Regions from separate parts of the Homo sapiens genome. Here regions 2 and 3 are each linked to region 1. The links come from fine-mapping of genetic effects on gene expression. A gene starts in region 1. Each other region holds a variant in brackets. All regions are shown on one strand. Distances are between the middles of the regions. Region 1 holds the start of CRYZ (crystallin zeta). Region 2 overlaps CRYZ (crystallin zeta). Region 3 overlaps FPGT-TNNI3K (FPGT-TNNI3K readthrough).

Evidence for each region. PIP is the estimated chance that this variant, and not a neighbour inherited with it, causes the effect.
Region 2: its variant is the best candidate, but not a certain one, in a credible set for the expression of CRYZ in whole blood (INTERVAL, PIP 0.85).
Region 3: its variant is the best candidate, but not a certain one, in a credible set for the expression of CRYZ in uterus (GTEx, PIP 0.89).

Annotation. Positions count from the first base shown.
Region 1 is chr1:74,730,683-74,734,885 of GRCh38, reverse strand. It overlaps CRYZ (crystallin zeta), which reads left to right and starts at 1,836. Exons shown (of 9, transcript NM_001889.4): 1 at 1,836-1,930. It overlaps TYW3 (tRNA-yW synthesizing protein 3 homolog), which reads right to left and starts at 1,734. Exons shown (of 6, transcript NM_138467.3): 1 at 1,468-1,734. The coding sequence starts at 1,641. RefSeq lists enhancers at 1,120-1,219, 1,600-1,889, 1,444-2,154, 2,750-3,039.
Region 2 is chr1:74,702,443-74,706,645 of GRCh38, reverse strand. It overlaps CRYZ (crystallin zeta), which reads left to right. Exons shown (of 9, transcript NM_001889.4): 9 at 189-1,160. The coding sequence ends at 350. Among named protein-coding and RNA genes, the nearest start is that of CRYZ, 29 kb to the left of the region's middle. The variant T/G (reference allele first, on the strand shown) is at 2,187.
Region 3 is chr1:74,459,014-74,463,260 of GRCh38, reverse strand. The region is part of intron 22 of FPGT-TNNI3K (FPGT-TNNI3K readthrough); the gene reads right to left. All of the region lies in intron 20 of TNNI3K (TNNI3 interacting kinase), which reads right to left. Among named protein-coding and RNA genes, the nearest start is that of LRRC53, 51 kb to the left of the region's middle. The variant AGCTGGT/T (reference allele first, on the strand shown) is at 2,186.

The sequences.
Region 1 (4,203 bases):
ATACTACGAATAAAATCAGTACACAGCCAACTTTTACAGTGCATGGGCCAGGCACAAAGCCAAATATTTCAAAAAAAATTATCCTATTTTCTCCACACAAAATCCCTATAAAGCAGATACTTTTTATTATCCTCAGTTCATAGAACAGGAAGGGGCAGAGTTGAGATAGCTTTCCTAAGGTCACATAGCCCGTGGTTTTTAATCTAAGCAGTATCACTCCCAAGCAGCCTTATCCTCAGGGGATATGTCCCAAGACCCCCTAGTGGATGCCTGAAACCTCAGATCAATTTCTTTTTCCTTCTTCACTTCACAATTTCACTGACAAGATTCATTCTTTCCGTAGATCTTAGCAACCTCAGCATATGCTGTTTTTTCTTTCCTTAAGTCTTTCCTTAAGAACTTTCACCTTTTCACTTCAAAAAAGCACTTTAAAACTTACTGTTGGCAGATCCAAATCGCCAGCATCATTACTCCCGTACTTTGGGGCCATTATTAAGTAAAATAAGAGTTACTTGAACACAAGCACTGTGATACCACCACAGTCGATCTGATAACCCAGAAGGCTACCAAGCAGCTAAAGGGCAGCAAGAATATATAGTGGAATATTCTGGACAAAGGGATGATTCACCTTCCATTCTGGAAGGAGCTGGTTGGCTCAAGATTTTATCACGCTACTCAGAACAGCATGCAATTTAAAACTTACTAATTGTTTATTTCTGGAATTTTCATTTAATATTTTCAGACTGCTGTTGACTGGGGTAACTGAACCTGCAAATAAGGAGGTATGGCTTGTACAGCTGCTTCTTGATTTATGATGGGGTTACATCCCAATAAATCCGTCATAAGTGGAAAATGTAAGTCAAAATGCATTTACTACCCCTGTAAACCCATCATAAAGTTAAAAAAAAAAGTCTAACCATCCTAAATTATATACGATCGTACTTTTCTCTGCGTAAAACTACTAGAGTTGTAATAATGGAGGGGCTCACTAGGAGGCAGTAAACTCCTTAACACTGGTGATGTTCAAGCATGCAGTAACAATGATTTGCCAGAGCTGTTGATGAGCGGATTCCGGCATTCAATACCTTAGCAAGCTACAAAGTCTTTAGATTCCCTTAGTATTCATATAATAAAATCAAATTTTCTAAACTTTGCCACACAAGATAGTTCCCAGGTCAGCAGTTTCAACATCATTTGGGCACTTGTTAGAAATGCACAGTATCAGGCCCTACCCTACACTTAAAGAATCGGGATCTGTATTTTAAAAGATGCTCAGCTGATTAATAGCCACGTTAAACTTTTAGAAGCACTGATCTAATCCCCTAAATTTCACATATAAAGAAACAGAGACCACCCCTCAGAGGAGCAAACACAGACATGCTGGATCCGGTCGTCACTGGATGGGAACAGGGCTCCTGAAGTTTCGCACTAGAAGGCAGGCGATGGACAGGCGCAAAGGGGCCTCACCCGGTCAAGGAGTAGGATGCGGCCAGCGCAGGAGCTGGTGGTGAAAAACTGATCTCGCATGTTCAGAAACTGCACAAGCTCTACCACATCCTCGTCAACACTGCCCTTCCGGCTGAGGTCCGCTTTGCTCAAACATTGCGCCTTCCATTTCCTGAACTCCGCGCTGCGATCCATGGGTGACGGACTCAGGGTCTGCGCTCGGCTCCTTCATGGTAGCCTCGTCTCTCCCTGGGGGCAGCCATATTGAAGCGAGCGGTGGCCGAAAAGGTCCAAACTTCCTCTTCGTTCTTAATTTGGGAAATTCTAGTGCCTTCGCCTAGGGGTGGAGAGAGGCGCACATCCTGGGTGGAGCGAGGCGCACATCCTGGGTGGAGCCTGCAAAAGTTGGAGAAGGTGTGGCAGTCCTCATTTCTGTGGAATCTGAAGAAGCCCACGCAGATTTTAATTCCCACTCTAGATTCTGGTAAGTGGTTTTAAAAACTCTCCTTAGTTGTTTAGACAGCGAATCTCCCCACTGCTCGTCCAAGTGGAACCGAGTTTGATTTTGGCTGCACCCCTTTCCTGCCCTCTGTCCTCCCAGAGAACTAGTGCGTAGAGCTCCAGACCGAAGCCATTCCCCTCCAGGGGCTGCAAGTTCCCATCCATAAATCAGGTAGGAAGTTTTGCCTTCTGGTCCTGGGCTCCTAGCCCTGGTCCTGCGTTTAGGCTCTGAGTTTAGGCTACCACACCATGAGGTGTCCGTTGGCACTACCCCTGCCCAGCCTCCGCCCCCCGCACTCCCTGTCCCCCAGCCCCACGCTGCACCCCCCCCCCCCCCCCCCGCCAGTCACCCGCTTGATTTTTCCCTGCAGCCAGTGCCTGGGTTTGGGGATTCCTGCAGCAGCGCCCAGCGGTCTGTCCAGGGCCCCTTCCCACAGCCCAGCTCTCAGCTGTAGAGGATTTGTCCTAGGTAGGGCCCCTTCCCACAGCCCAGCTGTAGGGGATTTCTTCTCCTAGGTAGGGCCCCTTCGCACAGCCCAGCTGTAGGGATTTGATTTCTTCTCCTAGGTAGGGCCCCTTCCCACAGCCCACCTGTCAGCTGTAGGGGATTTCTCCTAGGTAGGGCTCCTTCCCACAGCCCAGCTGTGGGGGATTTCTTCTCCTAGGTAGTGCCCCTTCGCACAGCCCAGCTGTAGGGGATTTGATTTCTTCTCCTAGGTAGGGCCCCTTCCCACAGCCCACCTGTCAGCTGTAGGGGATTTCTCCTAGGTAGGGCTCCTTCCCACAGCCCAGCTGTAGGGGATTTCTTCTCCTAGGTAGTGCCCCTTCGCACAGCCCAGCTGTAGGGGATTTGATTTCTTCTCCTAGGTAGGGCCCCTTCCCACAGCCCAGCTGTGGGGGATTTTTTGTCTTGGATTCCCACAATTACAGGTTTCCCGGAGCTTCCTCCAGCTTTGCCATCAGGATTGCAGTCTTTGAGAGAAATGTATAGTTTTATTGACCCTGTGACGCCCACCACCTAGAATAATCTTCAAAAGAAAATTACAAAACACCCTGTTAACACATCGTTGGATGTTTATACTGAGTTTCTAGAGGAGACTCAGTGACCAGGGAAGGTGTGTCAATGATTAAACCTAAAGGCTAAAGTTTGGAATGCTTGTCCGTAGCTAATGGAAATTGTTGTGCGAGTCCCTCTGAAGCCACTGTGATTACGTGTCTGGTTAGCGCAGCGAGTTCAGCAGCAAATCTCTCCAAGCTCTACTCCTCCAGCATTAGGGAACAGACTGCCCTGTTCCATACGATCATGGAACCTGGAGGAGTCCGAAATTATTAAACTCCTCCCCTCTTCTTACCCCGTCCTATCTCAAGTGAACAGAAGTGACCTGATAAGATCACACAGCCAGGAAGAGACTTTCTCTGACCACTTGTAATTCTTGCCTTTTTTACATTTCTGGGTTAATAATAAACCATATGCTTACATGAGTCATTGTGTATTAGCAGCAGAACAATTTGTAATGATTGATTTTTTTTCTAAGTTTTCAGTTTTTAAAATTCTTGCCAGAATTCTTATTTAATTTTACTTTTGCTCTTGTCTCATAATGTTCCTTTGCTCTGGCTTTGTGACTTGATCTGTTCATCCTATGTTAAAATATACTCCTAACATTTTCCCAATTCCTTTAATTTTCGTTTAAATCAAATGGATACAAGCATAGCCAGGAAAAAGATCACTGTTGGAAGAGGGATTTTAGATTTTCTATTTCCTAGATTTGTAAGGCATATTGGCAACCTTTCAGAGGTAAAATTAAACCAAAAATTAAACCAAGGGACTCTTAATTTTTAAAAGTTTATATTTGATAAACAGGAAGGCCTATTTGAAGTATAGTTTAATTAAAAAGCACAAGCAATGGAAAGGCCTGTCCTGTTCACAAGGATCCGATGCTAGGGAGTAATTTTTTTTTATACATTTTTAAAAATAGAATCATGTCCTTTGTATTTCTGCTGCATTCCCTGACTTAGTGGGCATTTGAGAAATTTCAAACTCTAAGCAGATGCCTTAGTCATAAAATATGCGATTCTACCTGCAGGTTAGTTTGATTTCACATTTTCTAGCTCAATCTGTCTCACTATCACTATTGTAAAGTTTATTTCTACGAAGTAAAGGGTCTTATATGCCAGCATCTCAAAGGGTGAGATGAAAAGGATGGTAAAGAAAAAAATCAGCTAACACCATTTAATTACAGGACTTGGGTTCTAGCT
Region 2 (4,203 bases), 28 kb after region 1:
GCAGATGGGATTTATGGTTACCCTGTAGATAACTACTTTTTCTATAGTTCTGGACAAGTTGACAAAAGTCACACATTTGTAAGAGACTCTTCATGGTATAACACTTAGATTCTGAAGTGTTTTTAATGCTTCTGAAAATTAAATCATACGGTTCACTACAAAAAGAAATTTGTTTTTCCTTTTCTTAGGAGGAATTTCAGCAATATGCAGCAGCCCTTCAAGCTGGAATGGAAATTGGCTGGTTGAAACCTGTGATAGGTTCTCAATATCCATTGGAGAAGGTGGCCGAGGCTCATGAAAATATCATTCATGGTAGTGGGGCTACTGGAAAAATGATTCTTCTCTTATGATGATTAATTCTTTCATGGATTTCCTATGTAATTAGAGGTACTGTCTTTCCCCCAGTTGTACTTACCCTATCTTTTCTTTAATTAACATTCGATTCCATGAGCTTCTTATGTGAAAAAATAAGATTTTTCTTTAGAGAGCAGAAGCAGAAGAGTAAAATTTATTGTATAGCTAGCAATATTTTTTTATGCCATCTGTCTCAAATCAAAGAGTCATCATAGTAGGAAATAACATGTTAGTTGTCATTTGGCATGAGTGTGCATTCCAGTAATTCTTAATTGATATTTGATTAATTCCATACCTTTGATTAAAACATGCTAGTTCAAAATAAGACTGCTCAGTTTCCAAGGGTTTTCAAGCCTACTTACCTTTATAAAGGTTCTCTAGTCTCTGATTAGCCATGACTGTATTGGACTTTGAACATTTTCTGAACTAAAAACCTCTATTCTAAACTAATCTCATTTGGATGTGTAAGTCTTTTGTAAAGGCAAGAATAAATAATATCCAGGACAATTTATTAGTTTTCTCAGTATTTTCCCAAATATTAGAATATTTACTTCATTATTGGTTGGCTGCCAATGACCCCATATGTTCTGTGAGAATAGTAGCTTTATCTTTGATATAATACATAGTCTCCAAATAGGTAATACTTCGCAATTGATTAGATTTTCAGAGTAGATTTAGAGTTATCTGTTTTTCTGGTGAGGGTCAAATATTTTTGTTAATTAAGCTCACAAATTTGATAAATTAAGAATTATCTGCATTTGTCTCGTAACATAATAATGTGTAATAAAGTCTATAGAAAATTAAAACCTGCTTTTCTAGTTTTTATATTATTTGCCTCTCATCACTTCTGCATAGCTCCTGACAGTTACTTCTTAACAGTGTTCTATGCTGGAAGCCTTTATCTAAACTAAATACAGGGATGACCTCTTAGCAATCTTGCCATCAATATTATATTCAAGAAAATAAAAGTTCGGTTATTTGTTGTTTTTGTTTTTCTTCACATAAGCACATACTTTTGTCTTGCTACATTATGTGATTGATTGTTTTGACCTGATTTTTTCTGTTGAATGACAATTTCTGGCTTGAATATGGAATCCTGCTTCAGGAATAAACAGAAAACACCGCTAATTTCTATAGTTGAAGGATATCATTGGCTTCTGGTTGTATGTGCCATGGCTGAAGTGTTTTTTGCTATTAGCATTTTCAAGTTTATCCACTGTTTCTTTTACAGGTTAACTACCCTGTAAAATTACTTAAAAAAAAAGTGTTAAGGCAATGTCATCAACATAGGCTGGCATTTTATGTGCATCCTAAAATGGAGGATTCCTTTCCATGTAAACAAGGTAAAAGAATAATTATTCTGTAAAAGTCAGTTTAATCTGTTTGTATATTTGCCTCATCTATAGAAGGAGCTAAAGCATACAGATGACTTAACACTTCAAAATACATTGATACAGTTTAATTAATTTTGAAGCCAAAACTAGCCAAACTGTGTGCATTAACTACCATATTTATGATGTAGCACTGGGTATGTTCTCTGCATAAATCTCTGTGGTTTTAGTCTTGTCCCAACTTTCAGCCAACTGCATTCACTACTTGGTTGGTGCCTGTGGCCTTAGGGCTACTACATAGTCTTCAGTGCCCATTCTTGATGAAAAGTAGAGAATAACCTGTATAATAAACAAACATTGTTTAACTCAGTCTTTTGGATTTCTGTTCCTGGTTGCTTTGACTTGTGTGACCTAGTCATGTAATGTATTAGAGACCAAATTGGTCAGCACCCTGAGCCCAAAAAGGTGAATCAACATACCAAAGGTCACATGACTAGGAGA[T/G]TCAAATTCAGCTGACTTTTTTGTGGGCTGTCGATATAAAACCATAAATTTAACTTTCCAGGCCTCTGGCTTTCCTTGCTCACTGTACCTCTGGCTTCTCTAACAGATTATTCTGTGCATCCATTAGTTCAACAAGTATTTATTGAGTACCTAGAGTCTGAGAAAGCACCCTGTTGGATTTTGAAAATACAGAGATATATAAGACAGAGTGCATATCCTTGAGCTTACAGTTGAGTAAGGATGAGACCCAAGTAAAACATTTTAGAATATAAGGGAGTGTCATACAGGGTTCTCCAGACAAACAAGCAATAAAATATATTAAGAGATGCATTTGAAAGAATTTGCTCATGCAATTATGGGGACTGGCAAGTTAAAATCTGTAGGGCAGGCCAGCAGGCTAGAAATACAACTAGTTTCTATTGTTGCAGTCTTGCAGAATTCTTTCTCTGTGAAACCTTAGTTTTTGTTCTTAAGGCTTTCAACTGATTGGATGAGGCCCACCTGCATTATTGAGGGACATCTCCTTAAAGTCAACTGATAATTTTGTATAAACATGTAAGTGGCACATGTTGACTATGTTGACACAAAACTAACCATCACAAGGGTGACAGACACAGAGGAAGGGCACTTAGTGTAGCTTGGGATTTGCAGTCACACATTTCATACATTTGATGCATTTGTTAGCTGTCTCCATCCATAGTAGCTTTAACCATAGAGGTAAAAAATAGGATGCTTCTGAAAGGGGGAAAAAAAAAACTAGCATTTTTTTAATGTCCGTAACTCGCCTGTTGAGACAAGAAATTGTATGTGTGCCAAGGGGCTTCCCCAATTTGTGGTATAAAGAGCTTTCTTTTTCTGCACGATTTCCAAGAACAGCAAAACCTGTCAGGTCACTTTGACCTACCTCTTTGCGCCTCCTTGACCGTATCTCGCAAACAGAAAAACACCTCAGCTCAATGCTCAATCATTTCTAATGCTTTCATTTTTTTAGTACAGTGCTTTAAAAAGTCATTTAAAAATTGTCATATGACAATTTTGCTAATCCATAGGGCTTATACTGTGGGAACTTCCTACATCCCAGGACAAGGCCTAGGAAATGTTATAGAAAGAAACGTAAGTTCACTTTGGTCTATGTCGACCCCTAAGTCATACATGGAGACACTCCATGTGTGTCGTTAAAAGTGAGTCTAATACTGATCCCAAAATTATGTGATATGGATGTTCATTAAATGTGCTAAATATAACTACAGATCGCAGTCCCTGATTTATTCATTCCCAACTTCATGTAAAAATACCCACAAAACTCCAGTAGTACAAGACAGTGAAGAGAAAACCATGTGACAAAATCCACTGGGAATTTCTAACATAAGTGTCAATCATTTGATTCGTTGAACCAAATTATCTACAGAGTAGGCAGGAAAAAGCCACAACTCAATCACTGCCTCTAACTTGGGACACAGGAGGTACACTGCCTGGAAAACCAAGTCCCCCGCCGCACACACACACACACACACACACACACACACACACTTTTTTTTTTTTTTTAACCAGAAATCATCTGAACTAGCTAGAATTGAGGTCTAGGTCCACCCCACAGTATCCTTCAGCTCCTTGCTTTCACATGCATTTTAGAGACTACAGGTTTCAGTTTTCAGTACAGCTATAGATTAAGGAGGAAGTGGAACTTTGCACCCTCAGATGTCACCACAGAGAAAATCTTGCAAATGGATTGAGAGTGGAATTGCTGGAGAAATACAAGACTTGTGCAAACAACATTTGTCTGACTCTAGCAAAGCCAGATAATGTAAAAATTGGAGCAGAAGATGCCCGTACCTTAGTCCAGCAGGCACTGGAATTGACGCAAAATATTGAAGAGGCTATCTCACTCCAGATATTGATCTGGAAGAAACTGACCTCTCTTATGGGCAGGGAGGAAGGCCACAAGTACATCTCTGGTATAGTTGTCAAGAGCATGGGTTCTGAAGGCAAAGAAACTGGATTTAAAGCCTAGCACTGT
Region 3 (4,247 bases), 270 kb after region 1:
TACAAACTTATCTTTATTCATTTGGTTTCAGACTCAATAAATAGTACAGGGCATTTATAAGGAGTGAAGGAATATGCAAGGAGCAAGTAGTTTTGTTTGTCTGAAGTATAGGGTATGTACATGATATTATAAGAAGTAAAGATTGAAAGGCAGATTAAACAAGACTGTATAATGCCATAAATCCCAGGCTAAAGAGCTTATATTGTATGTAGTAAACATGGAATACCACTGAAATTTGCACTTCTCATAGCACCTGTATCACTTGAGCAAAGTAGATTTTTTTAAAGCTTAAATCCTATTACTGGTTACAAAGTTGTTGGGATTTTAATTTTTAATATTTATAAAGTAGTTATTATTTTTAAAACTCTGTTGGACACTTCACATCTTTATTTTAGCTAACAATACTCATTGATTGAAGTCTGTCGTGTTGCCTGCCTGCATGGATTTCTGAATATCGCTCATCTCAAAGTCTGCATCACTGTTTTGTGATTCTTAGAACTTCACTGTAGATTCCTGATTGCTAAATATTTCCTGTTCTGCAACTAATGATTTCTATACTCCCTTAGAAACCAAGCTTGTAGCTACTTTTACTGAATGCATTTTGTATCAGGCATCATGGTAGATAACTACATAAACTCCTTTAATCCTCCTAACCACCATGCAAAGTAGGTGTTGTTGTTGTTGTTATGTGTGGAGCTAGTTTTTAATTTATAAACATTTTACATATAACTAATGTTTGGTGCAGTCTTTTGTTTCAAAATCCATGCTCTCTTTAGCACACATTATAATAAATATACTCTGTAATCAACACATGATGCCCTGTCTATTCCTCACAAAAACTGCTCTGCATCAGTGAGAGGATAAAGTTCCAGGACATTGCTGCTGCCTGTCTTTTAGATTGTGGTATTGTAAGCATCTGTCTATATCTTAATGACTTTTGAGATATAAGCCACAACTACTACCTCTACTCTACCAAAATTTACTCCCATCAAATTCTGTTTATCCATACACTTTCAGTAGGCCTAGTGAAATTATATGCAATGTGATTTGATCAACACTTTATGGATTATTCTGAATGATTACCTAATTTTGCCAATTGTAAATTAATACTTCTTCCTTGTAGAAGTTTAAAAAATTAAGAGAATTAGAAGGAATAAATGTTATCATTTAGAAGAAACCATTGTTAAAATATTTCACATATTTCTTATACTTTACATCATTGACCTTATGTCAATATACAATTATGTAATTGTTTTTTCTAAATATTAAAGCATTAATCTAAGCAATGAAGCATTTTCTCATGTTATTAACACTTTATGTTAACATATTTTAATGACTCTGCATTTAGTTTTTAATCATTTCCGAATTTTAGGTTTTTCCAAATTTGGGTGTAAACACTTCAAAGAATATCTTTTCAACATGAGTTGCCAGATTTCATAGATTATTCATTTATGATATTTTGAGGAGAGAAGATGATGTGCCAAAGGCATAACTACTTTAAAGACTTCGGTACAACAATTATTCTAACAGTTGTACTAAATTTATACTCTCAACAGCATGTGTGTGAGGGTTATCAATACATCTGCACCAGAATTAGGTTTTCTCATTTTATAAAACATGTTACTAATTTCAGAGGTAAATATAGCCACTCATTTTTTTTGTTGTTTAGATTGTGTTCTTATCAAATATGTCACTACTTATTAAATGTGTCTTCTGTGTCACAAAAAATTAGGCATTTTGGAGTACTTTCACTGGTTACTCTTTTTTTTTTTTTTTTTCTCGAGACAGAGTCTCACTGTGTCACCCAGGCTGGAGTGCAGTGGCATGATCTGGGCTCACTGCAGCCTCTGCCTCCTGGGTTCAAGTGATTCTCCTGCCTCAGCCTCCCAAATAGCTGGGACTACAGGCACATGCCACCACCCCCAGCTAATTTTTTTGTATTTTTAGTAGAGATGGGATTTCACTGTGTTAGCAGGATGGTCTCGATCTCCTGACCTCGTGATCCTCCTGCCTTGGCCTCCCAAAGTGCTGGGATTACAGGCGTGAGGCACCATGCTGGGCCACTCTTGACTATTTTTAAATTATTTCTGGGATGAGGTAAATCAATAAGCAAACAAACTGGTGCTCAGCAATCACTGATCTTCTAACTCCACTTTGTTACCTTATGATCATTTGGATATTGTTG[AGCTGGT/T]GTAGCTGTAAGTACATAAGCCAGTATGGTGAGCACATTTAAAATAGTTGTGCATAGTCTAATGGGTGGGGAGGGACTAGTCATAAAATGAGTTAAACTCTGATGCAGGTGCCAACCATCCCCCTTTGAAATTCTTTTAGATTCTGGTATCAAAAATATAGAGTTACTTGTTTGCTTCTTGGCAGTGTGTCTGGAAAATCAGTTTAAGATGAATGATATTTAATTCTTCATTATTCAAAGTAGATTCTGCAAAGTCTTGGCATCTCCTCCCCTTTGCTTTAAGCACTCTTGGCAGTGATGCTACTCATTAGTGCCTCCACCAGAAAGTGGGCAATGTAACATGAGGGGGTCATGAAATTGAAATTTGTCACCTTGAGATTGTTTTGTCAGTCTTGCCTAAGCAGCCATGCTACACTAACATCTGGGAAATTTTCTGGTATTACAGATTCAGGAAGGAGATTGTCAGCCCATTAATCAAATTTTTACCTTGATTGCTACAAAAAATATGTTAGAGGATTTATGTAAATGTTGGTTTCTACTTTAAAGAATGAGACTTTGCCATTAAAGGAGAATAAAGCTAAATTTAAAAATATTAATAACTATTTATTGAGCAACTATTATTTCTCAACAGTCTCCTGAAATATTTATCAATAGTTTAGTAGAAATAATAACCTAGATCTAGAGTAGGAGTATCCAATAGAACTTTTTACACTGATAAAAATGTTCTTGTAATCCCAGCACTTTGGGAGGCCGAGGCGGCAGATCACGAGGTCAGGAGATTGAGACCATCCTGGCTAACACGGTGAAACCGCATCTCTACTAAAAACACAAAAAATTAGCTGGACGTGGTGGCTGGCGCCTGTAGTCCCAGCTACTCGAGGCAGGAAAATCACTTCAACCTGGGAGGCAGAGGTTGCAGTGAGTCGAGATCGTGCCACTGCACTCCAGCCTGGGCGACAGAGCAAGACTCCGTCTCAAAAAAAAAAAAAAGTTATATGTTGTTAAATATGATAGCATAAAGTTACAGAGCACTTAAAATGTGGCTAGTGTGACTGATAAATTGAGTTTTTAATTTGTTTAATTTTATTTAATATAAATTTAAATAGTCATGGTAAGTGGCTTTCATATTAAACAACATAATTCTAGAGCATAGCTTGCACTCTCATTATCCTGAAAAACAAGAGTTAAACCCAGTATTGTGAGTCAGCTGCAGAGTCTATATAACCATGGTGTCAATTTGTGGATTCAACTTCTCCCTTGTTTGTCGATACTTTATCAAGAAAAGAAAAGACATGAATGGAGATTGTGTATGTTGTTTCTCAAAAGTGATAGACCAGTGAAAAGCTACAGAACAGGCATTCAGCACAACATGTGATAACCTCATTCATGTATTCATTTGTCAAAATGTACTGACTATTTTATGTAAGTGATAATAAACCAAAAATAATCTGGTGTTATTTTTTTCAATGAAAATTGGTAAATGAATAAATAAGAAATATGTGAATGCCTAGTTTTTTTCACTGCATTTTATGGTTCAGTTGTTAATTCTAAAATGCGATTCCTTTTGCCTGGAATGTTCTCCCCTACCTCTTTTTCCTTCGTAACATCTACTGTCATTTAGCTCTTATCTTTGATTGACTTTTCCTGGGTACCCTTCCTATGTACTTCCATAACAACCTGTACTATCATAACATGTATTATACTTAATTGCCTCTTTATTTGTCTGCCTGTGCATATAGATCATAAATGCCTTGAGGTCAGGGACTGTGTCTTTTCACCATTGTATCTTCTGTGCCTAGCACAGTACTTGGCTATTAATAGGTATTCAAAAGGTATGCATTATTTCCCTTAGGATAATGGCCTCCAGCTACATCCATGTTGCTGCAATGGACATTATTTTGTTCTTTTTATGGCCATATAGTATTCTATGGTGTGTATGTACCACATTTTCTTTATCCAATCCTCTGTTGATGTGCACCTAAGTTGATTCCATGTCTTTGCTATTGTGGACAGTAGAGGTCATTATCCAAGGGGAATTAATGCAGGACCAGAAAAC